7 linked regions of the Homo sapiens genome follow. The protein of the gene in region 2 purifies or fractionates together with the protein of the main gene of each other region. This does not show direct contact. Each region holds a gene or a part of one and is shown on either strand. Other genes may lie near its edges.

The links.
Region 1: the proteins of TCTN1 (region 2) and GUSB purify together in Homo sapiens (affinity purification with mass spectrometry; one large-scale study listed by BioGRID and IntAct). This does not show direct contact.
Region 3: the proteins of TCTN1 (region 2) and CSPG4 purify together in Homo sapiens (affinity purification with mass spectrometry; one large-scale study listed by BioGRID and IntAct). This does not show direct contact.
Region 4: the proteins of TCTN1 (region 2) and METRNL purify together in Homo sapiens (affinity purification with mass spectrometry; one large-scale study listed by BioGRID and IntAct). This does not show direct contact.
Region 5: the proteins of TCTN1 (region 2) and ART5 purify together in Homo sapiens (affinity purification with mass spectrometry; one large-scale study listed by BioGRID and IntAct). This does not show direct contact.
Region 6: the proteins of TCTN1 (region 2) and MAN2B2 purify together in Homo sapiens (affinity purification with mass spectrometry; one large-scale study listed by BioGRID and IntAct). This does not show direct contact.
Region 7: the proteins of TCTN1 (region 2) and ERFE purify together in Homo sapiens (affinity purification with mass spectrometry; one large-scale study listed by BioGRID and IntAct). This does not show direct contact.

Annotation. Positions count from the first base shown.
Region 1 is NC_000007.14:65,960,184-65,962,698, forward strand, and holds the end of GUSB (beta-glucuronidase isoform 1 precursor), read right to left. Parts: intron 881-2,515; coding exon 714-880; 3' UTR 501-713; downstream 1-500. UniProt on the Homo sapiens protein: Plays an important role in the degradation of dermatan and keratan sulfates.
Region 2 is NC_000012.12:110,647,530-110,649,930, forward strand, and holds the end of TCTN1 (tectonic-1 isoform 1 precursor), read left to right. Parts: intron 1-219; coding exon 220-363; 3' UTR 364-364; intron 365-1,156; exon of another isoform or gene 1,157-1,513; 3' UTR 1,514-1,880; downstream 1,881-2,401. Other genes in the region: HVCN1 (voltage-gated hydrogen channel 1), read right to left, coding at 1,881-1,946. UniProt on the Homo sapiens protein: Component of the tectonic-like complex, a complex localized at the transition zone of primary cilia and acting as a barrier that prevents diffusion of transmembrane proteins between the cilia and plasma membranes.
Region 3 is NC_000015.10:75,681,849-75,685,348, forward strand, and holds part of CSPG4 (chondroitin sulfate proteoglycan 4 precursor), read right to left. Parts: coding exon 3,371-3,500; intron 3,065-3,370; coding exon 2,888-3,064; intron 1,194-2,887; coding exon 995-1,193; intron 894-994; coding exon 759-893; intron 612-758; coding exon 445-611; intron 1-444. UniProt on the Homo sapiens protein: Proteoglycan playing a role in cell proliferation and migration which stimulates endothelial cells motility during microvascular morphogenesis. May also inhibit neurite outgrowth and growth cone collapse during axon regeneration.
Region 4 is NC_000017.11:83,092,616-83,095,622, reverse strand, and holds the end of METRNL (meteorin-like protein isoform 1 precursor), read right to left. Parts: intron 2,457-3,007; coding exon 2,397-2,456; intron 1,368-2,396; coding exon 1,048-1,367; 3' UTR 501-1,047; downstream 1-500. UniProt on the Homo sapiens protein: Hormone induced following exercise or cold exposure that promotes energy expenditure. Induced either in the skeletal muscle after exercise or in adipose tissue following cold exposure and is present in the circulation.
Region 5 is NC_000011.10:3,639,193-3,643,424, forward strand, and holds the start of ART5 (ecto-ADP-ribosyltransferase 5 isoform a precursor), read right to left. Parts: upstream 2,801-4,232; 5' UTR 2,671-2,800; coding exon 2,614-2,670; intron 1,180-2,613; coding exon 450-1,179; intron 1-449.
Region 6 is NC_000004.12:6,620,189-6,623,862, reverse strand, and holds the end of MAN2B2 (epididymis-specific alpha-mannosidase isoform 1 precursor), read right to left. Parts: intron 2,676-3,674; coding exon 2,578-2,675; 3' UTR 501-2,577; downstream 1-500.
Region 7 is NC_000002.12:238,157,587-238,161,769, forward strand, and holds the start of ERFE (erythroferrone precursor), read left to right. Parts: upstream 1-1,383; 5' UTR 1,384-1,421; coding exon 1,422-1,619; intron 1,620-4,007; coding exon 4,008-4,130; intron 4,131-4,183. UniProt on the Homo sapiens protein: Iron-regulatory hormone that acts as an erythroid regulator after hemorrhage: produced by erythroblasts following blood loss and mediates suppression of hepcidin (HAMP) expression in the liver, thereby promoting increased iron absorption and mobilization from stores.

The sequences.
Region 1 (2,515 bases), on a different chromosome or scaffold from region 2:
TTGTAGGCAAAGTTGTTTAAGGAGGTCCTGTCACATTCAGTGGCATCCGTTATGATAAAGCCAATAGGCTTTTACACTCATCTGTCCATTTCTGTCAAGACCCTATGGCTGAGGTCAAAACAATGTTCTGGGAGAACCAGTTACCTCTAACCTTCCAATTCAGACACTGCCAGCTTAACTATGTAGAAACTGGCACACAGACCCTGTTAAGTGCTGCAACAATGACAGCGTTTCTATGAATTTGTTGGTACATGTGGGACTTTAGCTCATCTGAGGAGTCGAACAGCAGCTGTGAAAGTCTTCTACTCACTCCCTGTCGAGGCTGGCCTGGTTTGCTACACAAACACGGTGGCCCTAGGACCATGGGGCTATTCCTGCAGACGCCCTCGGGAACCAGCTGCTCTGAACGTGGTGGGGGTGTTGGAGCAGCAGTTTCTCAAAAGTCCACACACAGTTAAAGCTCTGAAAACAGCACGACGCACAGAAATGATTTCAGATGCTTTTCAGTAGCCACTTTCATGCCAACTCTTTATTTCCATAATAGAAAATCTTTTATTTCCACCTTTAGTGTTCCCTGCTAGAATAGATGACCACAAAACCCAGGCCAGAAACGTTCTGGTCTGCCGTGAACAGTCCAGGAGGCACTTGTTCTGCTGCTGTGGAAGTCGCCCTGACTCGGGGAGGAAGGGACACGCAGGTGGTATCAGTCTTGCTCAAGTAAACAGGCTGTTTTCCAAACATTGTGACTTGGCTACTGAGTGGGGATACCTGGTTTCATTGGCAATCTTCCAGTATCTCTCTCGCAAAAGGAACGCTGCACTTTTTGGTTGTCTCTGCCGAGTGAAGATCCCCTTTTTATTCCCCAGCACTCTCGTCGGTGCTACAAAAAAAAAAAAAAGACACAAAGCGATTCAGATGTCTTCTGATGGGTCAAGTTAGAACCAGTCTGGAGCTAAGGTAGGCACTAAATAGAAATGTCTTTTTTTTTCTTTTTTCTCCCTGTTGCCCAGGCTGGAATGCGGTGACACAATCATAGCTCACTGCAGCCTCAACCTCCTGGGCTCAGGCAATCCTCCTGCCTCAGCCTCTCCAGCACCACCATGCCCGGTAATCTTTTATTTTTATTTTTTAGTAAAGACAAGGTCTCATTATGTTGTCCAGGCTGGTCTCAAACTACTGGGCTCAAGCAATCTGCCCTCCTTAGCCTCCCTAAAGTGCTGGGATTATAAGCACAAGCCACCATGCTCAGCCAAATGTCCTCTTACAGTTTCAGGATGCTTGCTCTGAAGTGACAATTTATGGGTTGAAATATTTAAATACCACTGCTCTGCCCAAACACCCAGGTTCCCTGGTGTGTTAATTTCTAGTTTTCTAGTCTGTTAGGGGAAAAAAACCCAAAACAGTGGCCAGGTGTGGTGGCCAACGCCTGTAATCCCAGTGCTTTGGGAGGCTGAGGCAGGTGGATCACCTGAGGTCAGGAGTTCAAGATCAGCCTGGCCAACATGAGGAAACCCGCCTCTATTAAAAATACAAAAACTGGCTGGGCACATTGGCTCATGCCTGTAATCCCAGCACTCTGGGAGGACAAAGCAGGCGGATCACAAGGTCAGGAGATTAAGACCAGCCTGGACAATATGGTGAAACCTCATCTCTACTAAAAATACAAAAATTATACAGGCATGGTGGTGGGTGCCTGTGGTCCCAGCTACTCAGGAGGCTGGGGCAGGAGAATCGCTTGAACCCAGGACGCAGAGGTTGCAGTGAGCTGAGATTGTGCCACTGCACTCCAGCCTGGGCGACAGAGTGAGACTCCATCTCCAAAAAAAAAAAAAGCACTAAAAGTTTATCTTTTATTTGCAAACTAAGGTTTACATGCTGGGTACCCAGCTGTCTGGTAACTGGGTAGGCAGAGGGCTAGGGGTATCTGGGACAGTTACCCTTGAAAAGCCTTGGGCCTTTCTGAAGAGATAGCGCCTAGTGGGAGCCAGGGTCCTGACCAGCCACAGGTCCCTGCGTGGGACCTACTCATGGAGTTCAAAGTCCGCCGGGGCTGACGTCCAGCTTGGCAGCACCCACCACTGGTGGTCATTAGGCCTGAGCTGAGCCTGGTGGAGGAGCACAGCTGGCAACGACCTGTCAGGGCTGTGCTCTCAGGACATTCTCTGTCCCCAGTAAGACCACCACTAAATGGAAATGTTAAATGGAAAGGGGGCTTTCCCCACCAAAAGGTTCAAGACTGTTTCTTCCATAAGTGAACACAGGCATCGCCAAGTACTTCATCAAATGCAGCCCTTACGACACCAACAAGGAGGTGGCATTATCCCCACTGGACAGGCTTATGAAAAGCTTAGGTGACTTGCCCAACGTGATGCAGCTCATTTCTTTTTTCTTTTTAAGACCGAGTTTCAGCTGGCCATGGTGGCTCATGCCTGTAATCCCAGCACTTTGGGAGGCCCAGATGTGCGGATCACCTGAGGTCGGTAGTTCAAGCCCAGCCTGACCAACATGGAGAAAC
Region 2 (2,401 bases):
TCTTTAAAATTCTCATGAAAATTATGATATTCACGTGTTAATCAGACACCCTGGTAAAATTGTTTCTCTCATCCAAGTTAATGGCCAATTAGTGCTCCAGGACCTATCAGATTCATGAACTGACAGTAGTTGGGTGAGGAAGAGAATGAAAAGTGTCTCATTGTTGTCATTCTGGGAGCACACTGGAGGGTGGGCCTTGCATCTCTCTGTTTATTACAGGCCAACTCAGGAAATGAAAGGACGATTCTTATTTCCACTGCGGTTACTTTTGTGGATGTGTCTGCACCTGCAGAGGCAGGCTTCAGAGCTCCACCAGCCATCAATGCCAGGCTGCCCTTTAACTTCTTCTTCCCGTTTGTTTGACGTAAGTGAGGAAACTACGCCCCTCCTCTGAGGTCATCCCCTTTGGAAAGTGTGCACGTGGGGCTAGAAGTCCCTAGGGGATACTGCATTTTATACTTTTTGAGGGTCTCGCTTTGTTGCCCAGGCTGGAGTGCAGTGGTGTGATCATGGCTCACTGCAGCCTTGACCTCCTGGGCTCAAGCAATCCACCCACCTCAGCCTCCTAATAGCTGGGACTACAGGTGCACACCACAACACCTGGCTAATTTTAATATAGTTTGTAGAGATGGGGTCTTGCTGTGTTGACCAGGCTGGTCTCAAACTCCTGGGCTCAGGTGCTCCTCCTGCCTCGGCCTCTGAAAGTGCTGGGATTACAGGTGTGAGCCACCATGCCTAGCCTTATTATACTTCTAACCTTTGAGGTTGCCTCCAAACCAGCACACTGCCCTTCTCCACTCCCTTCCTGCCTTTTTTCCTTTTGGAAATGTTATTCTATCTGACTTTTGAATGGGGAATATGCTTAACACATAGGTCATAGATGATAGAACCCAAAAAGTCTTTGGGGAGATGGTAAAGAACATGAACAGGACTTGAAGCAGCAGAGGCAAGGGGGATTTGGCCAGTTCATTCATCCCCTGCTTTGAGTTATTTATTTTAAAAATACTCAGTTCAGGTTTTTTCCTTTTTGGGTCCGGTTGAAATGAGTACAAAAAAATAGCAAAATATTAGATAAAATCATGCGAGAAGAGCACACAGCCCTTACAAGGGGATCTTCCCCCAAATACCTTGTTAATTATAGTGGAGTCTTGGGTCTAATTGCCATTTCTGCACCAGGCACTGTAGCTAGCTTGCTCTCCGACTGGCAGGCTGGTATGGGTGCCACAGAGGAAAGAATACAGTAGGAGGGTCCAGGGAAAAGAGAGAGTTTATTTTATACAGTAGTTGTTTTATTTTATACAGTAGTTGTACAGTAATTGAGGAAAAATGTTGTCAGGTGGCAGAAAACAATGGAGCCACCTAGAAGCTGGCTGATGCAGCTGGGGCACACAGAGGAGGGGCCTGGGTACCCCTTTTGGGGAAACTGAGACGAAGCTATTTAGAACAGCTTGAAAATAAGAGACTTTTCTAGAATGGGGTGGCAGCTAAAGTAGCTTCTTTTTCTTTCTTTCAGAATGCTCAGATGCATCAGTTCCTTAATATACACGTGAAATTTGAAAACTGTACATTCGGTGAGATTAAATTTTATATACAACTAGCAATTGTCCAGCTTTGTTGCTCATTTTCAATTAAGGCTAAAGTGTTCAACATGAGAAAATGTGATACATTTGATACAGTGTGGGGTGGGAGTGGATGGGCAGCTCTTGGTGGTACTGGACCTTCCACAAGGCTGTGTCCACCCAGAATCCATGCTGGCAGGAGGGAGGCAGAGGTATCAAACCAAACCTCTCACCAAGCGGCCCAGGAGGGGCAGCTGTTCCTCTCGTGACAGCACAGGCCCATGAGACAGTGTCTTCTTTTTGAGGGGAGCTGGTCCGGGTCTAGTTCACTTCACCAAGAAGTCCATGCTGTCGCAATAGTTTGTTAAGTCTTTCAATTTCTTGTTCCTATTGCAAAAGCAGACAAACACTGGAATTTACTTTGAGCCTCGCCAGGGATGTGACAATCAATCATTCAGTGAGCCCCAGGCACAGGACCACAGAGATGAATGAAAGCTACGCTGTTTGTGGCATTCAGTCTGCTGAGGAGACTGCTACAATCAGATAGGCTTCACTGAGCAGCAGTGACAGCAGTGAGAAGACAAACGTGGGGGACCTGGCAGAGCCCTGGGATGTGGGGGTGGGCACAGCTTCAGGGAGGATGTGACGCCTGGGCTGGATCTGAAAGGACAAGGCAGGCTCAGCCCAGGGAAGGGCGCTCTAGGTGCATGAGCAGCGCTCTGCTGCAGGCGGGTGCTGCGGCAGAGGCCAGCTTCCCAGATATCTTTTTTTTTTGAGACAGAGTTTTGCTCTTGTTGCTCAGGCTGGAGTGCAATGGCGCGATCTTGGCTCACCACAACCTC
Region 3 (3,500 bases), on a different chromosome or scaffold from region 2:
CTGGCACTTGACCTGAGCCCCAGGCTCACACCTCTGCCCACAGGCCCAGCCGCTGCTTCACGTCCAACTCCATCCCCCACCAAGCACTGCCCCTCATCAGCTACTGGGGTACCACTAGTGCCCCCACATGGTGCCCCCTCTCCAGACCCTCGGGTCCGGCTGTAGCTTCCTTCTGGAAGCTATACCCCAAGACCCCAGCCCTGCTCTAGGGCCCTGTATCCCCGACTTTCTGCATCCTTCTCCCTCCTTCTGGGAACATGAACTTGCCCTGCCAGCCTGGCGGCTCCTGGAGGACAGGACACTAGCGCCTGGACAATGGCAGGCCCGGGAACGTCTGCTGCCAGTGATGCTGGAGCTGGCATCCATGTCCACATGATGTCCATGGCACAGCGGCCACCTGAGGCTGGGGGCATCTGAGTGGTGGCTGCAAAGTTGGGCCCTTACCTCTGCCTGAGTGAAGTTCACCAGGGCCTCCCCTGTGCTGTCCTGCTGGGCGTGGAACAGCCGGCCTAGCTGGGGGCCCCGCACCACACGGTAGAGCAGGAGCTGGGGGTCAGTGCCTGCGCTGGAGCTGGCCCTGAGGGTCTGACTGCTGAGTGGCTGGACGGACCCTGCCAGAGGCAAAAGGGGATATCAGATTTTGACTGGGAGCCAGGTCCAGGCCTGTGTTTGCAAAGAGGCAGCGTGACCCTGGCATGCCACCCTCAGCTCCGCCCCAGCTCCTGGCACCCAGGAATGCCCATGATCAGCACACCCACCTGGGCAGACAGTCAGTGTCTGGCTGCCCTTCAGCGAGAGGAGCACTTGCTTCTGGGCCGTCACTCGGAAGAAGTGTCCGGGGGAAGTGTGCTCGCCGTCAGAGAGGCGGAAGCGGAAGCCTCCATCCAGGGTTCCTGGGGACAGGGGCATTGGGTCCAGCTGGCCCGAGCCGGCTCCCCATCTCAGGGCACCCCCGTGGGCAGCAGGAACCCGAGGCCCGGCCCTCAGCACCCACCTCTGTGTGAGAACAGCACGAGCCCGCCGTCCAGCTGGGCCTGCGTGAAGCTGCGCACCTCAGTGCCCGGCGCCCCCCGCAGCACTACCCGCCCGTTGCTGGGCTGCTCGATGGTGTAGACCAGATCCTCAGACCCAGAGTCGCCGTCCGTGCTCCTCAGAGCCTCCGCAGGGATGGGCGCAGTGGCCCCCTCCCACATCTGGGAACACAGGCCTGTGAAGGTTCTGCCTTGCCGCACTCACCCACCCCTTCCTCCCCGGCCCTGGGCTGCCACCAGGGCTCCAGTCCTGCTGCGGCTCAGCCCCTCGGGTGGCATCGAGGCTGGCGCCACTCTGGCTCCCCTGCACAAAGGGCCTCCCGCATTCACCTTCCCTGTCACCCCAGGGAAGGCCCCAGGGAAGGTCACCCTCCAGGCCCAGCCTCCCTGCTCTCCATCTGCCCTAGTCCTGTGTGTCCCTCAAGGCCAGCTTATGTCCCCTACCCAGGAAGGCCCCAGCTCTTACCCTCACCAAGTTCTCACTCCCAGAAACCCCCAGCGCTGACCAACAGTGCTCCCTAATCTGTCTCACTGGTGGGACAGGGGTCTCCTTTCAGAGCCTCCGTGTGTGCCTGGCCGGGGCCGGGCACAGGTGGGAATGGTGATTTTAGAAATGGGCCCTCCTTCCAGCTGAGGGAGGGGTGCGTGGCGCAGAGAGTGGGGGGCTGATGGTTGGCACTGTTCTGCAGCACAGAATCAGCGTGGGATGGGCCCAGGTGCTTCCAGAGCAGTTAGGGGCCCTCCTTATGTTGGGCAAAGGGGACCCCTTTTTCAGGCCTCCCACTTGCAAGCAGAGCAGGTGCCTGTTCCTGAGGTCCTGGTACCAGTCTTGCTGGGTCAATTACTTGCGGGCAGAGCTGCAGTGGGACTCACATGCCCGGAAAACAGAGCCTTCTGGCATTCCTGGGCTTCCTCCCCCGGCCCCAGGGAGCCCTCAGGCCCAGCCCTGGCAGGAGGGGCCATAATGTTGCGGGGCAGGACCCCAGCACTAGGCTTCTGGAGCAAACACAGGTAGATGGCACCACCTGGTGGCTGTGCTGCCACACAGCCGTCCTGGCCTGTGGTTCCAGAGCACTGTGTCCCACTCTTTGGCGGCTTCCGCACCACCAGGCCACCCGCTACGGGCACATCCTAGACCACCAAGGCCCCGCCCCCACCCCCGCCCCAGGCACCCCATGCCAGAGACAGCCCAAGTCAGCCCTTTATGGAAACTTCAGTGGCTCCTGCTGACCGGGGAGGATGCACCCCAGAAGCTGGGGTTCAAAGCCCTGCCATGTGGGCTTTGTAAAGCCATGCCCTTTCTGTTCCACCAGAACTACTTTTGCAACCATGGAGAAGTTCCATCCCACGTCTGGGCCTCAACTTCCACCTGCAGAGTGGGGCCCTTACCTCTGCCTGAGCGAAGTTCACCAGGGCCTTCCCTGCACTGTCCTGCTGGGCGTGGAACAGCCTTGTGCAGGAGTTTGGGGAGCCAAGCCATGGCCTTCACTTGCTGGGTGAAGGTGGGAAACTTAACAGCTTCCGCCCTGATGCCTGCCCTTAAGGGCTTGTAAGTGATTCTGTCAGATGTTCTGGTCCTTAGCCACAGAAGAAGGAACAGCAGAGCCACCCGTGGCCGCTCAGAAGTCTGCCTACCATACTTGCAAACATCCAATAAAAAAACTTCCCACCTGTGTTCTATTTCAGCACAATCTCACTTCTCTCCTTCCAACAACCCCGTGAGGCATGTGGCAGCGTCCCCATTTTGCAGAGGAGGAAACTGAGGATCAGAGCTGGGGGAGCTCTGAGCCGCGAAGTAGGGGACGCTGGCCTCTTTCTCGAAGCAGACATGGGGGTGTTCCCAGGGATGCTCTCACCTGCAGGCCTGTGTTTGTAGTGAGGATGGGGGGTTGGTCATTGACAGGCAGGACAGTGACAGTGAAGGCCACAGGATGGCTCTGGCGATCCATCTCGGAGGCATTAGCCATCAGGACAAAACTGTCTGTCAGTGTCTCGCTCCCGTCATGCACGTAGCGGATCAGCTGCTCTTCCACCTAGGGGCAGGCCCAGGGCTGGCAGTCAGGCCCCAGCAGCACCCTTCATGCCCTGCCTTTGGGTGCAGGAGGAGACTGACTCTTTTAGGGCTTCATTTTCCATTGGTAGAAAATGGGGACCATAAGTTCTGGCTCCGAGGAGTTGTGAGGAAGAAAAGATATATGGTATTTAAAGCATAGGTGCTTCTGAAATGTGACTCCCCGTCTCCTCTCTGTGTATAACCCCCAGACTGGGAGTCCCCAGGGCTCCCTCCACTCTGCCCCCAGAGCTGGGCTGCAGCCCCTGGGCCTCTCTCACAGCCATACCATTCTCCAGGAGAAGGCGCTGAGGGTCCTGGCTTGAGGTCCGTCCTCCTTCTGCAGGGCTCCATGCTGGGGTGGCTCCAGCACCTGCAGGCTGAGGCCCAGGAGAGTGGGGAAGTAGGGCCCGGAGACA
Region 4 (3,007 bases), on a different chromosome or scaffold from region 2:
GAAGGGTCGCCCCCGGCTGAGGAGAAGACGAAGGGTCGCCCCCGGCTGAGGAGAAGACGAAGGGTCCTCCCTGGAACCCCTGGAGGCTGAGGAGAAGATGAAGCGTTCTCCCCTGGAGCCCTGGAGGGAGAGGCTCTGCCCACACCGTGACTTTGGATTGTGGCCTCAGGAACTCAGAGAACGAGGTTGTTTCAGCCCCGCAGTCGGTGGTGATTTGTTCTGGTAGCCGCATCCTTTGGGGACATGGGGTCACCAACCTGGGTTCAGACCAGCTCCTGGGCGTCTAGAGACTAGCTGTGGGCCCCTGCACTGTGGGCAGGCTGGGGCCACAGGGCAGGACCTGCATTAATGGAAATGCAGCAGCAGGCGCTGAGGGACAGTCGCCGGGCGGAGCAAGCGTGTCTGCCGAGGCAGGGTGGCGCCCTGGGGTACGTCCAGCGAGGCCCTGAACACGGGCCGTGGGCACCGGACCTGGCGAAAGACAGACTCCGGCTTCTGGCTGGTCGGATCCTCGTCTTTATTCTCGGGAACGGAAACAACCGGCGGCCTGAAAAGGACCAAAGCTCATCCTTTAAAAATAAAATGAAAATAAAAAACGTATTATTTGGCTCCAAAACTTCCGTCATGAGAATAACAACTCTGAATGGCACCTTTTCACACATCCACTGTGCCCAACGGCCAGTGCTTCACCCAACCGCAGGCCAGATGCCGTGACTCCTAACGTCTTTAGAGAACAGTATCAGACGGCACACCAAGGCGTTTTAAGACACGGGAATTTGTTTCCTATGGACATTTCTTTTTTACCAAAAAAAAATATAATAACTTAGTTTGCATTTTACAGCATTTCCAATCGGCCAGGGCATCCTTGGCTGGAAGCTCATGGGGTTGAGTGTGGCGAGAACGTCCACAGCTTCGGTACCAGGGTCAGGCCTGGGCCCAGGGCATGCGGCTCCCAGCGCGCGGCCCTCACCGCACGGCCCCACCAGGACCGCAGCGCCCACCGCAGCCTGTGACTCATCAGGAGAGGAAGGGCAGCGGCCCACGGAGTCAGTCCGTGCCAACCTCACAAGGGTTCAGCCCCCTCTCCTGGGCATCCCTGTACATCCTCTGGAAGTCCTTGAAGCGTGGGGCACAGCCGAGCCGCGCCTCCCCGAAGTGCATGTGGCCAGTGAAGAGGAAGTCGCCATGCCCCGGCCGCACGCCACACTCCAGCAGCGTCCTGACGCGCCCCTGCCAGTGGCCGTCACCCTCGGGCACCGGCTCGAAGACCCTGCTTTTCTGCCGATAGAGTCTGCTCACGCGCAGGTGGATGGCTGAGTCCTGCCGCTCAGGCTCGTGGGTAACTTGCTGGATGGAGCCTCGAACGGCTGTGCGGGGAAGGAGATGGGGACAGGGAGTGAGCAAAGGCAAGCACACAGCAAGACCACCGCACCTCCCCCTGCCCCCGCATCGATGGGCACTGGAACGGGCAGCTGACCCCCGACTCTGCCATCTAGCGTGGAAATTCCCAGAGAAAAGTACAATGTAACAGCAGAAAGCTGCCAAGGGGTGTCCCAGATACTTAGACATCGTCAGAGAACAGGTGCCCTTTCTACCAAGGGCCAGACCTGTTAAATGGGAAAACAGAACAAACAAGTCCAGCTGATACACAGGGTGCCCCTGCAGTTCTGTGTCCTGATCAGACAGACCCGGTGCAGCTCACAGGAGAGGGTGGGCATGGGGACAGCCTTCGCGCCACACTTGGAGACCCCTGCCCAGCCCCAACTCCATGCCAGGGGCCGGGAAAGCAGTGAGAAGGGGCCTGTCCTTGAGCTTGGAGGTGGGGTGCAGAGCCGGGGCCTGCAGGACATGGCTTCCACGGCACCACACGACGGGAGGCCAAACCTTTCCCACAGGGCGTCTGTGCAAACGCCACAAGCAAAGGGGCTGGAGCCCTGGGACCCCAAAGCTCCTCCTGCAGAGCCGCAGAGCCGCCGGGGGCCTCAGGCCTGGAACAGCGTGAACTCTGGTGGGGGGCAAGGAGTGTCCAACGCCAAGGATGCTCTGGGCTGCTGATAAAATGCTGTTTACAAAGCACTTCAGCAAGAAGAGCTGCTGGGAGACAGTGGACTTCAAGAGTCCCCTCGAAGAGCAGTGATCTCATTTACAAAATGGGAAAATGTTTGACAGTCACCAAAACAACCCCCAGCTCCCTCCAAGTGTGGGCGGTGGCGTCCCTGTCCCCAGGGCTGGTGGAGGGCCGAGCCCAGGGCTTCCACAGCGTGTGCCCCTCCAGGAGGGTCCACGCAGCACCGGAAGGCTGTCCTGGGCCCTGAAGAGGGACTCCTGGGCCCAAACAGCTCCATGTGGCAGAAACCAGGAGCACAGGAGGTAGAAGCTGCCGAGGAGACACTCACCGAAGTCGCTGGTGCAGACGGCTAGGAGCACCTCGGTGTCACTGCAGGGACGGCACGGCGCTGGAGAAGAAAGGCAGAGTCAGGAAGCAGCCTGGACGGGACAGGCTCTGGAACGCCGCCCACCACCGTCAAAGGATCCTCACACTCAGCAAAGCCAAGTCAGGGAGGGTGTCCACGTCAAGGCACCTTTGTGACCAACGCCACTTCAAATGTGAGTTGGCGGCACGTGCTGGAGGGGCCGGCAGCACGGGAGACAGAAAACACAACCTCGACCACGACGGGGTCTCACCCAGGGGACCCCTCGGCCCCACCTGGACCAAAGGCACCTGCACCTCGGCCATGATGGGCACATGTCCGAGAGCAAGACCCTCAGTCCGGCCATGTCCCAGGGCCTTCGTGGGGAGGGGTCTTTGTGCTCTTTCCCCACTTATCTCCTCAGTGCGGCTGAGCCGGACTCACTGAGAAATCGCTCACGTGCCTGTTGCAAATGCAAAGCCCACTGGGGCTGAACCGAACCCACCAGACAAGAGTCACCCCCAACCCACCTCCACAGCCCACGGCGCCGGGAGCACCCCCACCTCCCAGAGTCGCCCCCAACCCACCTCCACAGC
Region 5 (4,232 bases), on a different chromosome or scaffold from region 2:
ACTCTTTCCAGATTGCCTTTCCATCCCTCTTCCCACCCAAGACCCAGTCACTCTTCCATCTCTCCCTGCCTTAGCACTTGGGAATGGCACATACGTGCCCTGTCAGCCCCATCGAGCCCAGGGCCCCCCTGAGACCTGAAGCAGTCCCCTTGGCTCTTTCTGCTGCTTGCTAATCTCCTTAACCAGGTTCTTTTGGTCTATTAGACCATGTAGCAGATGGACCCTTTTGAGGACATATAGAATCATCTAAGAATGTTCACGAATCTAGAAAACACTTATAGGACCCCAAAAAACCTGAGTCACAGAGGACAGCAACTCCAGCTGACTTCCAGCCCTCATTTCCCCTTTAACCAAGTGGGTCTCCCGAAGGCCCCGGGGATTATTGTGTAAGGACATCCTGGCTTATTTCACCCACACTGCCAGTCCTGCTTCCCCCATGCACAGCTTACCACCCAGATAGGCGCAGTTAAAATGGCTACAGGTCTGATTATAGCTCCAGAGAGTCACCAAGCTCTGGGCTCCATCCTGAGAGAATCTGGTAACCAAAAAGACTTCATGGGGGGGAATCAGCACCTCGCGCTCCTTGGGAAAGACAGAGAAGGCCTGTATAGGGGCCCCAAAGCAAGTTGTTAGAGAGAAGAGGGTGGCATTACCAAATCTGTGGGCCACTGCCTTATCCAGGGAGCTGGAGGCAAACTGGCCCAAGCGGACAGAGTCTCCCAGCCTCTTGGGTTCAAAGCGAAGGCTGCCCACACCTCGGAACACCACCTCCCCAGGTCCCCTGCTGCAGCCCCCACTGCCTCGCAGCAGCTGCAGGGCCCGGATCAGGTAGAAATGCAGGGCCTTGAAGGGAAAGTGCCTCATGTAGAGCTCCCGGGAGCCTCCGCCCGTCCGCACGGCCTGATTCAACTCCCAGTACAAGGTGTTCGATGAGTTGGTGTAGACCATAATGGCTATTCCATTCTGGGCTTTGAAGCCAGGGGGCAAGGTAAGCCCTCGACGCTTGTCCTCCCAGGTCTCCTGGGCTGCCTCCCAGGATTCCCGCAGCAGGGCATGGTGGGCCATTTCCTCCTTTAGCAGGGGGGCTGCCTTCTCCTCCATCTCCTCTGCACAACCCACATAGGTATCGTCAAAGGTGTCTGGAGCCAGGCCCAGGGGCAGGATGGGAACAGCCTGGGCCTGTGGAGCAAAAGAGGTGCCACACCGAAAAGAGCATAAGTTCAGAGCACTGGACATGGGTCCTGGGGGCAAACCCATCCAGAAACACAGAATCTCATTTCTATCCCTAAATATCAGGTATATGCAATTTGGCAAGGGCCCAATAAGAGGCTTAAATAACACAGGCACTGGAGTCAGTCAGACATGGACTGAAATCTTTTTTTTTTTTTTTTTTTTTTGATGGAGTCTTGCTCTGTTGCCCAGGCTGGAGTGCAGTGGTGAGATCTCGGCTCACTGCAAGCGCCACCTCCCAGGTTGGAGTGATTCTCCCACCTCAGCCTCCCAACTAACTGGGATTACCTGTGCATGCCACCATGCCTGGCTAATTTGTTTTTGTGTTTGTTTCTTTGAGACGAAGTCTCGCTCTGTTGCCCAGGCCGGAGTACAATGGCACGATCTTGGCTCACTGCAACCTCTGCCTCCCGGGTTCAAGCAATTCTCCTCTCTCAGCCTCCCAAGTAGCTAGGATTACAGGTGCGCAATACCACGCCCAGCTAATTTTTTGTATTTTTAGTAGAGACAGGGTTTCACCATGTTGGTCAGGCTGGTCTCGAACTCCTGACCTCAAGTGATCCACCAGCCTCAGCCTCCCAAAGTGCTGGGATTACAGGAGTGAGCCACCGCGCGCAGGCTGAAATCTTGACTTTACCACCTATTAGCTGTGAGGCCTTGGGCAAGTGTCATAACTTTTCTGGACTTGAGGATACTTCCAACCTCACAGTTATTATGAAGACAGCATAAAGAGCATTACTTCTGTACAACCTAAAAGGGGTCATCCTGTCATTAGAAAGGTTCTTGCAGTCGGTGGGAGGTGGGACTAGATGACTATCAAGCACTTTTCCGGCTGTAAGATCTGGCAGGCAGGTGATGTGCAAATATTACACACAGCCAGTGTCCAGCTGCCTAACCCCCAGCCCCATTCTCCTCGGGCTCTCTTTCCCTCTCATCCAGCAGGAAGCCCTTGCAGGTAGGTGCTCAGCCACCACACCAAATCACTGTGAGCTCTGAGACGCCTGAGTCCTCCCCTGCTCTGTACCCACATTTGGGGTAGGGGTGGTGGGGAGGCCAAGCCTTGGTTGGGACGGGCTGCCAGGACTGCAGCACACAGGTAACCCAAGGAGGCTTTGCCGGGCTGTGCCTGCGCTGGGAGATGAGAGGTGGGGAGGAGAACGTTGGAGGCATCCAGAGAGGGATGGAGATGGGGGTTCTAGGAGACAGAATGGGAACTTGGGGCTCCCTGCAGAGATGGAGGTTCCTGAGAGGAAGAGAGTTAAGAGTGGAATCCTAGGGAAGAGTCCCTGGGAGAGGGATGTGAGGAGTCAGCCCCGGGTCCACTTCCTCAGGGTCTGTCCCTTAATGTCCCCCTTGGGGCTAGGAGATGGTTCCTGGAGTTACCTGCCAGGTGTGGAGGCCGAGGCTGCCGAGGGCGATCATCAAAGCCGCCAGCGCCATCCCTGGAGGAGACGTGAGGGCCAGGGGTCCGGGTGAGGGCGGGACCAGAGGTGCTGGAGTCCTGGTTTCGAGGGGCTGGAGGCAGATCTGGACCCTGTCTCCAGGCGCACGGGATCCCGGGTCCAGGATTAGGGCCCCGGCGGGGCGTGGGCGGGGCCTGGGAGTTTATTGCCCGCCCCCCGCCCCAAGTCTCCGCCCCCGACTCCCCACACCCCTTCCTCAGAGCCTCCAGTCTGGGGACCTTTCCGAGACTGTAAAGGCGGGGCCGCAGTTTGGCTCCGCCTGAGAGGGGAGGGCCGGGGGCGGAGGACCCACTTGAAGGCTGCGGAAGCCGCCAGCGGGAGGGAGCGCCGAGGGCTCTGGCGGGCGCTGCGCTGTCCCCGGAGGAGTCCGGAGTCCGGCTGAAAGCAAAGGTTCTCGAGGCTAACTGTAGCCCCCGCGCTGGTAACCCGACACCCCTTTCCCAGCGCCGCACGCGGGGCCGGGAGCGGGCGCGCCAGGGCAGGGACTGAGGAGCAATTCCCTTTCTCAAGGCCTGCGGGGTCTTTCTGCGGGACCCTCTTTGGCTGTGAGTGATGGGGAGGAAACTTGTGAGACTCGGCCTCTCCCTCAGGCGGGCCCTGACCCGGTCGGCCCCTGGTCCCCGGCCCACCAGGCCAGGGGCCCCGCGGGGGTCCCGCCGGCCGAGAGGTCGCCCCCGGAGCACTGCGATTTGCATACAGTTTGCATTTGGCCCACACCCTGGGCCACGTGCTCCAGCATCTGAGCAGCGCCCACTCCCTGCCTGCTCTGGGCCCTCTCCCCATTCGCCTTCAGTGGGGTTGGGCCAGAGACAGAGCCCTTGGTCGCAGATCCACAGGGTCCGGTCTCGCCCCTCCCCCAGACCGCTCTCGTGGCCGCTCAGACTCAGGTGACCCATGTTTGTAAACACTGGCCTTTCCCCCACCTCCTCTGGGCTTATCTATAAATAACCTGGCTCTGAGTTTTGGATGCCCCGTCAGAGGTCATGGGAGAAGGGGCCAGCGGAGGAATTGGTAACTCAGGGAAGAGCTTCCTAGCAGCCAGAGCCAGGAGGAGGTGGGGTTGTCACCCCTCCTTCCCCCAGCGGCCGGAGGGTCGCCGAAAGCTAGGATTTGAGAAATGCTGCCTGCTGGGGCTGAGGTGGGCACGAAAGATTAGAGCTACCCAAAGGAATCCATCCTGGTCTGGCTCATTAATTTTCCCCATCCCTGTCCCCCCATCCCCTCAGAGTGTCAGCCAAATAAAAAGTTTCCTCCACCTAGAATCCTGCTATCTCCCAGAATCCTTTCTGTAGACCAAACGGGAAGACATACGGTGGGTCCAGGCTTGGAGGAGGGTGGGGAGGGAGGTGCTTCTGAGTGCTTGTTAGAAAAACAGCTCCAGGGCAGGGCGCAGTGGCTCCCGCCTGTAATCCCAGCACTTTGGGAGGCTGAAGTGGGAGGATCACGAGGTCAGGAGTTCGGGACCAGCCTGGCCAACAAAGATTAGCCGGGCGTGGTGGCAGGGGCCTGTAATCCCAGCTACTTGGGTGGCTGAGGCAG
Region 6 (3,674 bases), on a different chromosome or scaffold from region 2:
GGTTTTCCCCTGTCATCTATATTCTTCTCACTCTTCCCAGTTGAGGGTGCTGGGTGCTGGAGGGACCGCAGGGGGAAGTGGCTCTCTTGCTGTTTCTGTTCTGGACGGGGATGGTCAGCATGGGTGATGGTACTTTCAGTGCACATGATTTTTCTACAGCCTGGCTGCGCTGGGGATAACATTTCCATAGTCTTCTTTATTTTTTTCTGAGACAGGGTCTTGCTCTATTACCCCGGTTGGAGTTAGTGGCATGATCATGGCTCACTGAAGCCTCGACCTCCTGGGCTCAAGTGAGCCTCCCACCTCAGCCCCCAGAGTAGCTGGGACCACTGGTGCACACCACCACGCTCGTCTAAAGAATAGTTTTTGTAGAGATGGGGTCTCACTATATTGCCGAGGCTGGTCTGGAACACCTGGGCTCAAGCGATCCTTCTGCCTAGGGCTCCCAGCGTGTTGGAATTTCAGGCATGAACCACCACGCCTGGCCTCCGTAGTCTTCCTTTTTTTTTTTTTTTTGAGACGGAGTCTCACTCTTGTCACCCAGGCTGGAGTGCAGAGGCGGAGGTCTCCTCCGCCTCCCAGGTTCAAGTGATTGATTCTCCTGCCTCAGCCTCCCGAGTAGCTGGGACTACAGGCGCACACCACCACACCCGGTTAACTTTGTATTTTTAGTAGAGATGGGGTTTCACCATGTTGGCCAGCCTGGTCTTGAACTACTGACCACCAGTGATCCGGTTGCTTTGGCCTCCCAAAGTGCTGGGATTAAGGCATGAACCACTGCCCAGCCTCCATAGTCTTCTTGACACAGAAACCAAGCCTCATGCAGCCCACATGCTCTAAAGGGCTCCTGCCTCACTCCTTGTGCCTCAACCTCCCACTGCACATCCATGCCTCTGGTGGCTGCTCACCTGACCCCACCTCACAGGGGTGGCCTATTGCTTGGTCAGCAACTCCAGCCCAGCTCCTGCCTGGCCAAACCAGAGACTGTCTTTGCTGTCTGGTGGCCAAACTGCACGTTGTCCAGAGGTCTGACTCCTTCCAAGCTGGTCCTTTCTGGGTACTTTCCTTCAGCCCTAGAGTACCAAATAATTTCCTACATCTTACAGTTTACTCTTTAAAACGGTTTAGGCCGGGCACATTGGCTCACGCCTGTAATCCTGGCACTTTGGGAGGCCGGGGCAGGCAGATCACCTGAGGTCAGGAGTTCCAGATCAGCCTGGCCAACATGGTGAATCCCCGTCTCTACTAAAAATACAAAAATTAGCTGACGCAGTGGTGCATCTCTAGTAGCAGCTACTCGGGAGGCAGAGGCTGGAGAATTGCTTGAACCCAGGAGGTGCAGGTCGCAGTGAGCTGAGATCTTGACACTGCACTCCAGCCTGGGCGACAGAGTGAGACTCTGTCTCGGGAAAAAAAAAAAAAAGTTTTAAAATTGAGATATAATTCACAGACCATAAAATTCATCTTCCAAAGTTTTTAATTCATTGGTTTCTAGTATATTCACAAAGTTGTGCAACCATCATTCCACAATTTCATCATCTTCCAAAGAAAGCCCGTCCCTGTTAGCTGTCATGCCTCTTCTCTCTTCCTCCAGTACCTGGCAACCACCAATGTGCTTTGTCTCTGATACACAGATTTGCCTATTCTGGACATTTCACATAAACTCGTGATTGGCTTCTTTCACTTAGCGTAATATTTGTAGGATTCACTCAGGCTGTGGCATGCGTCAGAATTTCCTTCCTTTTTATGGCCAAATAATATTCCATTGTATGGACAGAACACACTTCATGTCTTAATTCATCTGTGGATGGACATTTGGGTTGTTGCTACCGTTTGACTTTTGAGTAATGCTGCTATGAACGCGGGAGCACAGGTATTGTGTGGATGGATGTTTTCAATTCTCTTGGGCATAGACCTGGGAAGGTTATACTTTTATTGATATTAATAGTTCTGATATTGGACATCCCTGCTGTGTGGTTTCACCTCTCATGGACTCTGACGGCTGCTGTGCCTTCTCTGCTCGGCAGGCGGTGCCCTGAGGCACAGGTGGGCGTCTGGGGCTGGAACTCTCGCTAGGCGCTACAACTTCCTCTCCTGCCCTGTGGCAGAGCCAAGCCCCTTGCAGGGCTGTTGCCAGCATGGGATGAGTCTATGAAAACACGTGGCACGCAGTAGGTCCACAGTTACCACTGGCAGCCTGGCAAGCCTGGCAGGGCCCGGACGGCAGATGCGCTTCGGTGCTGCTGTGAGTCTTGTGCTCTGCCTTAGGCAGAAAGTCCTGGGTTTGTGTTTTGTGAATGAATGACGCATGAGTGTGCCAAATATCCTTTACGTGACAGAAGAGGAGAGGGCTGGCTTGATTGAGTGTGGGGGGGAAGAACCTGGATCTTGTAATGTAATTTTTGTTTAAAAAAATTAGGGAAAAACCCCAAATATGACCATTTCCTGCCATTAGCCTGCAGATGAGCAGCTGACTCCCCAGTCCCATCCCTCCGCACTGCTTTTCCCTGTCCTGGGTCTGTTCTGTTACATGGAGTTCCTGGGGGAAGCCCTGGGGCCGGGGCATCTGCCCAGGGCTCACTGCTGTTGAAAGTGAATAAAGAACGTCCGGATTTCCTTTGGGTGGACGGTGATGATGGGGCCTCCTGGTGGCCTCGAGGGAGAGGTGGTGTCACCTAGGGGAACAGAGGTGATCTGTCCAGTGTGGCCTGGGATGCCTCCTCCCAGCCTCCCTCTCACCCCCTGCACCTGTCTACAGTCTGCTGTGGCTCCCAGCCTCCCTCTCACCCTCCTGCACCTGTCTACAATCTGCTGTGGCTCCCAGCCTCCTTCTCACCACACTGCACCTGGCTACAGTCTGCTGTGGCTCCCACCGTGGCAACGGCCTATGGCATCCCCTTCTGCCAGGACTCCTGTGGGCCTCTTGGCGTTTCTGCCCACCCTGAGGGCAATTCATAGGTTGGTCCTGGCCCTAGTGGCCTCAATTCCTCATGGGTGTTGCCCTCAAAGCCCAAGAGCTTTCTGAGACCATCTGGTGAGTCTGCCCTTGCCTCACCAGGCTCCCCTGAAGGCATGCCCTGGGGTTGGGCTTCGATCTTGGGAGGGAGCCGTCCACTTATCTATCACTCATCCATCTTCCTTCCTTCTTTCCAACCAACATCATCTTCCCTCCCTCCCTCCCTCCGTCCCTTCCTTCCTCCCACCACCAACTGAGCGTGCACCATGCACCCGCCACCATGCTGTGTGTAGTGGACAACGAGCTGCACAGGACAGAAGAAACCCCTGGGGCCAGGAGAGTGGAGGAGGCACTTGGCCTGGTTGGTGACTCTGGGGAGGCATCCTGGGGAGCTTGAGCAGGTGCTGGCCAGAGTGAATGGGACCTGTGCGTCCCAGGCAGAGGGCATGGTGCGGACAGGGAGTGGAGCCTGGAAGCTGCCTGTAGTGCAGGAGCTCACGGTGGCACATGTCGTATGAGGCAGGGACCGGCTGATGGGCTGAGGTCAGCAGGGCCAAGGTGGGCAGAAGCCCCTGGGCCCCTAGCTGTCACCCAGGGCACAGGCAGGGCGTGTGGTCTGCGTGTGCACACGTACAAGTGCACACACACGCCTGTGTGGAGCCCTGGCAGGCAGAGACTAACCCAAAGCCTTTCTTAACCGACTGTAGTAGATTTGGGA
Region 7 (4,183 bases), on a different chromosome or scaffold from region 2:
AATAATTACCTTCTGATCCCATGCTTTTCCTAAAGTATGAAGTATTTCCTGGTTTCCCCACCTGCCAGGCATGAGGCCAGCCAGGTGGAACATCGCATGAGTGGCCAGAAAAGGCAGGCGACAAAGGCCAGCTTGCATCTGAGGACGGAACTTGGCCCATCCCCAAGCCTGGGGGGCACCACCTGCGGCTGCTGGTGCCCCTTTCAGTCCCTGCTGCCACATCCTGTGAACCAGGACAGGGTAAGGCCTCCTTTCCCCAGCGGGCTCTTCTCAAAAGAGTTCCCCGGGAACAGCAGCCCTCGGTGTGAGTGTAAGGTACTTTTCCAGCGGAGCCTTCTCCCGTTCTTTAACAAAAAGCACTGTGTACCCACCAGGGGCAGGTGCCTCGGGGGTGGGGCAAGCGAGCCAAGTGTGCGACCCTCCTCGGCTTAGCGTCCAGTGGTGGGGCAGATAGTCAAAAGGGCATGCGATATAACAAAGCCAGGGGTAGGGTGGGGCTGGGGCTGGCTCTTTCCTGGTAGGGCCGCCCAGAGGCCTCTCTGCCACCTTCTCCGAGGCCTGCAGGGTCTGGTCCACCTCTGGGGGCACTGATTCCGGTGGGCGGTGGGCAGCCTGGCTTCCGGTCTGGTCTGCCCCCACACCCCCGCTAGGGCACGATAGGGGTCAGTTCTCCCAGCCCAGGCCCCGCTCAGCCCCACCAGGGCAGGGCGGCTGTCCTGAGTTGTTTCTTGGCTCCCTGCGTCTTCTGGGTCCCGGCAGGTGCGACAGGTGGGGAAGAACAGTGAATCCCTGCGCTCAGAGCACGCCAGCCATGGACGGAGGGCGGCCTGGAAAGGGGAGTTCCCGCCTGGGAAAGGGGCGCTGAGAAGGGGCCCTGAGGGTCTCCCGGCTCAGATTTGCTCCACCTGTGTCATAGAGGCCTGGGCCTTGCGGGGCGCAGCCAGGAGAATGGGGAGGGGGTACCTCGGGGGTCCCTGCAGAGGACGTGGGGGACAGAGCGGGGAGAAAGGATGCCTCGAGCCGTCTGGGAGGAGGCAGCGCCTGGCTCCCCGCAAAGAAAATGGGGTCGCGAGGGCCGAGGGTCCAGGGCTGGGAGAAGGGGCGCCTCGCTCCCCAGGAAGCAGAAGCGCTGGACAGCGCGAAGGAGGGATCCCAGAACCAGGAGTTGCAGGGGGGACGCGCCCAGCAGGGGAACACCCCTCGCTCTCCCTGCCCTGCCCCGCTCCCCGTGCCCCCTCCCCCACTCCCCCTCCCCCGCCCGGACACTCCCCCCATCCCCATGCAGCGCGCACGGGAGCCGGGAGGGGGCGCGGGCGGGCGCGCGGTCTCGGGCGAGGCGGGGGATTCAAGCGCGTTATAAGGCGAGGAGCCCGGGGCGTCCGAGACGCCGCGCTCGGAGCCGCGAGGGAACCGCCGCCCGCATGGCCCCGGCCCGCCGCCCCGCCGGAGCCCGCCTGCTGCTCGTCTACGCGGGCCTGCTGGCCGCCGCCGCCGCGGGCCTGGGGTCCCCGGAGCCTGGGGCGCCCTCGAGGAGCCGCGCCCGCAGGGAGCCGCCGCCCGGGAACGAGCTGCCCCGGGGCCCCGGGGAGAGCCGCGCGGGGCCGGCCGCTCGTCCGCCGGTAAGACGCCCGGGCCCGCTCCAGACCCAGCCCGCGCCCGCACGCCCCGGCTCGGGGCGGCGGGAGGCGGACGTGGAGGCCGAGCCCGCCCTCACCCCCGAGGGCTGCTGCATCGCCTGGCACCGGGGCTCCGGGGCTCCGCAGAGACTCAGGGCCGTGTAGACGCCGCCCTCAGCCCGGCGGGGCAGCCTTGACTTTGGCTTTGGGGTAGTTTGACTTAAAGCAAGGTTCTACTAGGTCGGCGAAACCCCCCTTTTCTTTTGGGACAGAAGGAAGTTGGGAAATAGATAAAGTGTAAATAACTTGATTTGAGGAAATTGGGAAGAACGCATTTGTAAAAAGTGTAAGCGAATTACTGCCACCGCCCCCAATCTATTTGGTGCAATTATCTGGAAAACAAAAAGTGTTTTCCTGCGGATCTGGGGTCGGGGGGCTGTGCAGGGTGGGGAATGACATGTGGCTTTGAGTCAAGTGATCAGGTGGCTTTTGGCCGTGAGTGGGTGATCTTGAGCTCTGCCCTGCCCCCTCCTCTCCAGGGTTTTGGAGCCTGGACTGCTGAGCAGAGGGTGGTCCGGTTGGGGAGGTGTGGCCCAGGCCTGAGGAGGGGAGAACTTCAGAGGAGCCCTCAGTGTGGCCGGGCCTTGGGTCAGGGAGACAGGGCTGCCCCAGGGAAGCCGGGGTGGGCGGCCGGTGCTGTTTATTCTGAAGATGCTCAGGGGCAGTAGAGGGGAGAGCCAGGAACGCATCTACTAGAGAGGACAGGGGTGCAGCCAGGCCTGGGGTCCCCCAGAGTTCTCTATCCCGGCCCCATCACACCCAGCCACTTCCCAGGGACTGAAGGCACCCCCTCCCCGTGCAGTTGGCCAAACCACCCAGGTGGGCACAGCAGCCAAATGTCAGGGCACTGTCAGCAGGAGGCAGACGGGGCTCAGGGGCTTCCAGGTGGAGTTTTGGCCTTGGACCCTGTTTGTGGGGGACACAGTGACACCAGAGGTCCTCCCAGGCTCCAAGGCTTGTTTCTGAGAGACCCCTTGTGGCTGGAACCAGGGCAGCTGCCCAATACCCACCCCCATTGCTGGGGCCGTCTCCTGGGACGCCACCTTCTGCCTGTTACAGCTCTACCTGCAAACCACACTGGGGTCAGGGTCCGGCCACAGGCCACAGGTGCAGCTGGGAGGGTCAGCTGGGCACACCCCTCCTGGCCGGTGTGCGGCATCCTCGCCCCATGTTTCCACGGAGGGCACACAGGAAGTGGAAGAGGGTCCTGGGAGGGGGTAGAGGGGAGATCAGCCAGCAGGTGGTGCAGTTGACCCTCTAAGGCACAAGGAAGCACTGAGCAGCGCTGAGGGCCCTGGGCCCCTGAACCCTTTCTCCGCCCAACCACAGGCTCCTCGGCACCGCAGCCCCCATCTTCCCACCACAACACCCTGGCCTGCGCATTGGTCAGCCAGCTCCCAAAAGAAGGCCCTGCATCCCCCCAGATCAGCCAGGAACCAAAGGCAGTGACTTGGCAGCCGGCTTTGTCTCTGATAAAAGGGCCCAGTCAGCTCTAAAATCCCAGGGTCCTTCCGTCAGCCCCCAGCGTCAGCACCCATGACCTCATCTAAGCCCTCTTGGGCCGGTTTCCTTCCCAGCTGGCAGCCTTGCCTGGAGCCCAGATAGCCCAAGGCCTCTCCCAGGAAGGTCCCTCCCAAAACTGTGCTCAGTGTCAGCATCAGTCAGGATGCAGCGCGGACAGGAATGGGAACTTCCGGAAGCATCACTGTCCATGTGTCAGTGTCTCAGAAGTGCTGAGGAAATGAAAGTCTCACACAGAGGCCTCGCGTCATGACAGCTCGCCTGGTCCTCTCCCCCACTGGACTGTAACCCGAGGCAGCTGTGAGAGCTGAATTTGCCTCCTTAGAACTTCTGACACTGGGGGAGGATGGACAGAGGAGGGTTGGCTAGTAGTTGGGCTCCCTGATAATCACAGTTGCTTCTTCCTGAGCACCTATGGGTGCTCCAGTGGTCGGATCCTCCTGGTGACTGGAGGACGGTGTGATCACTGCAGCTCCTCTGGAGGAAGGAGGCCCAGCAGTACGGGGATTCACCCCGATATCCAAGCCCTGCACCCCATTTTCCCTCCAGGCATCTTGGGTCTGCCTCTCCCATGAGTGCCAAGTCCAGGCCGAGGTGTGGCCCGTTCCCTAGGAGTCATCCTCCACGGGCCGGGGGAGAAGCTGTGAGGGGTTGGGGCCCCTTTGGGAGCTGCCTTTGAGGGCACCACAGGTGACAAGGACCAGGGTCCCAGAGTACAGAAGGCCACACAGTCACCTCCTGCAAAGTGTCCCACCTGCTTGGTAGGAGCCCAGTGAGGCCAACCGCCCTGCTGGGCTGGCTGTGTTCCAGGAGCCCACCGCTGAGCGTGCACACAGCGTCGACCCCCGGGACGCCTGGATGCTCTTCGTCAGGCAGAGTGACAAGGGTGTCAATGGCAAGAAGAGGAGCAGGGGCAAGGCCAAGAAGCTGAAGGTGAGGCCGGCATCCCGTCAGTGCCAGGCCGTGGGGGGTTCCGCCTCCTCGCT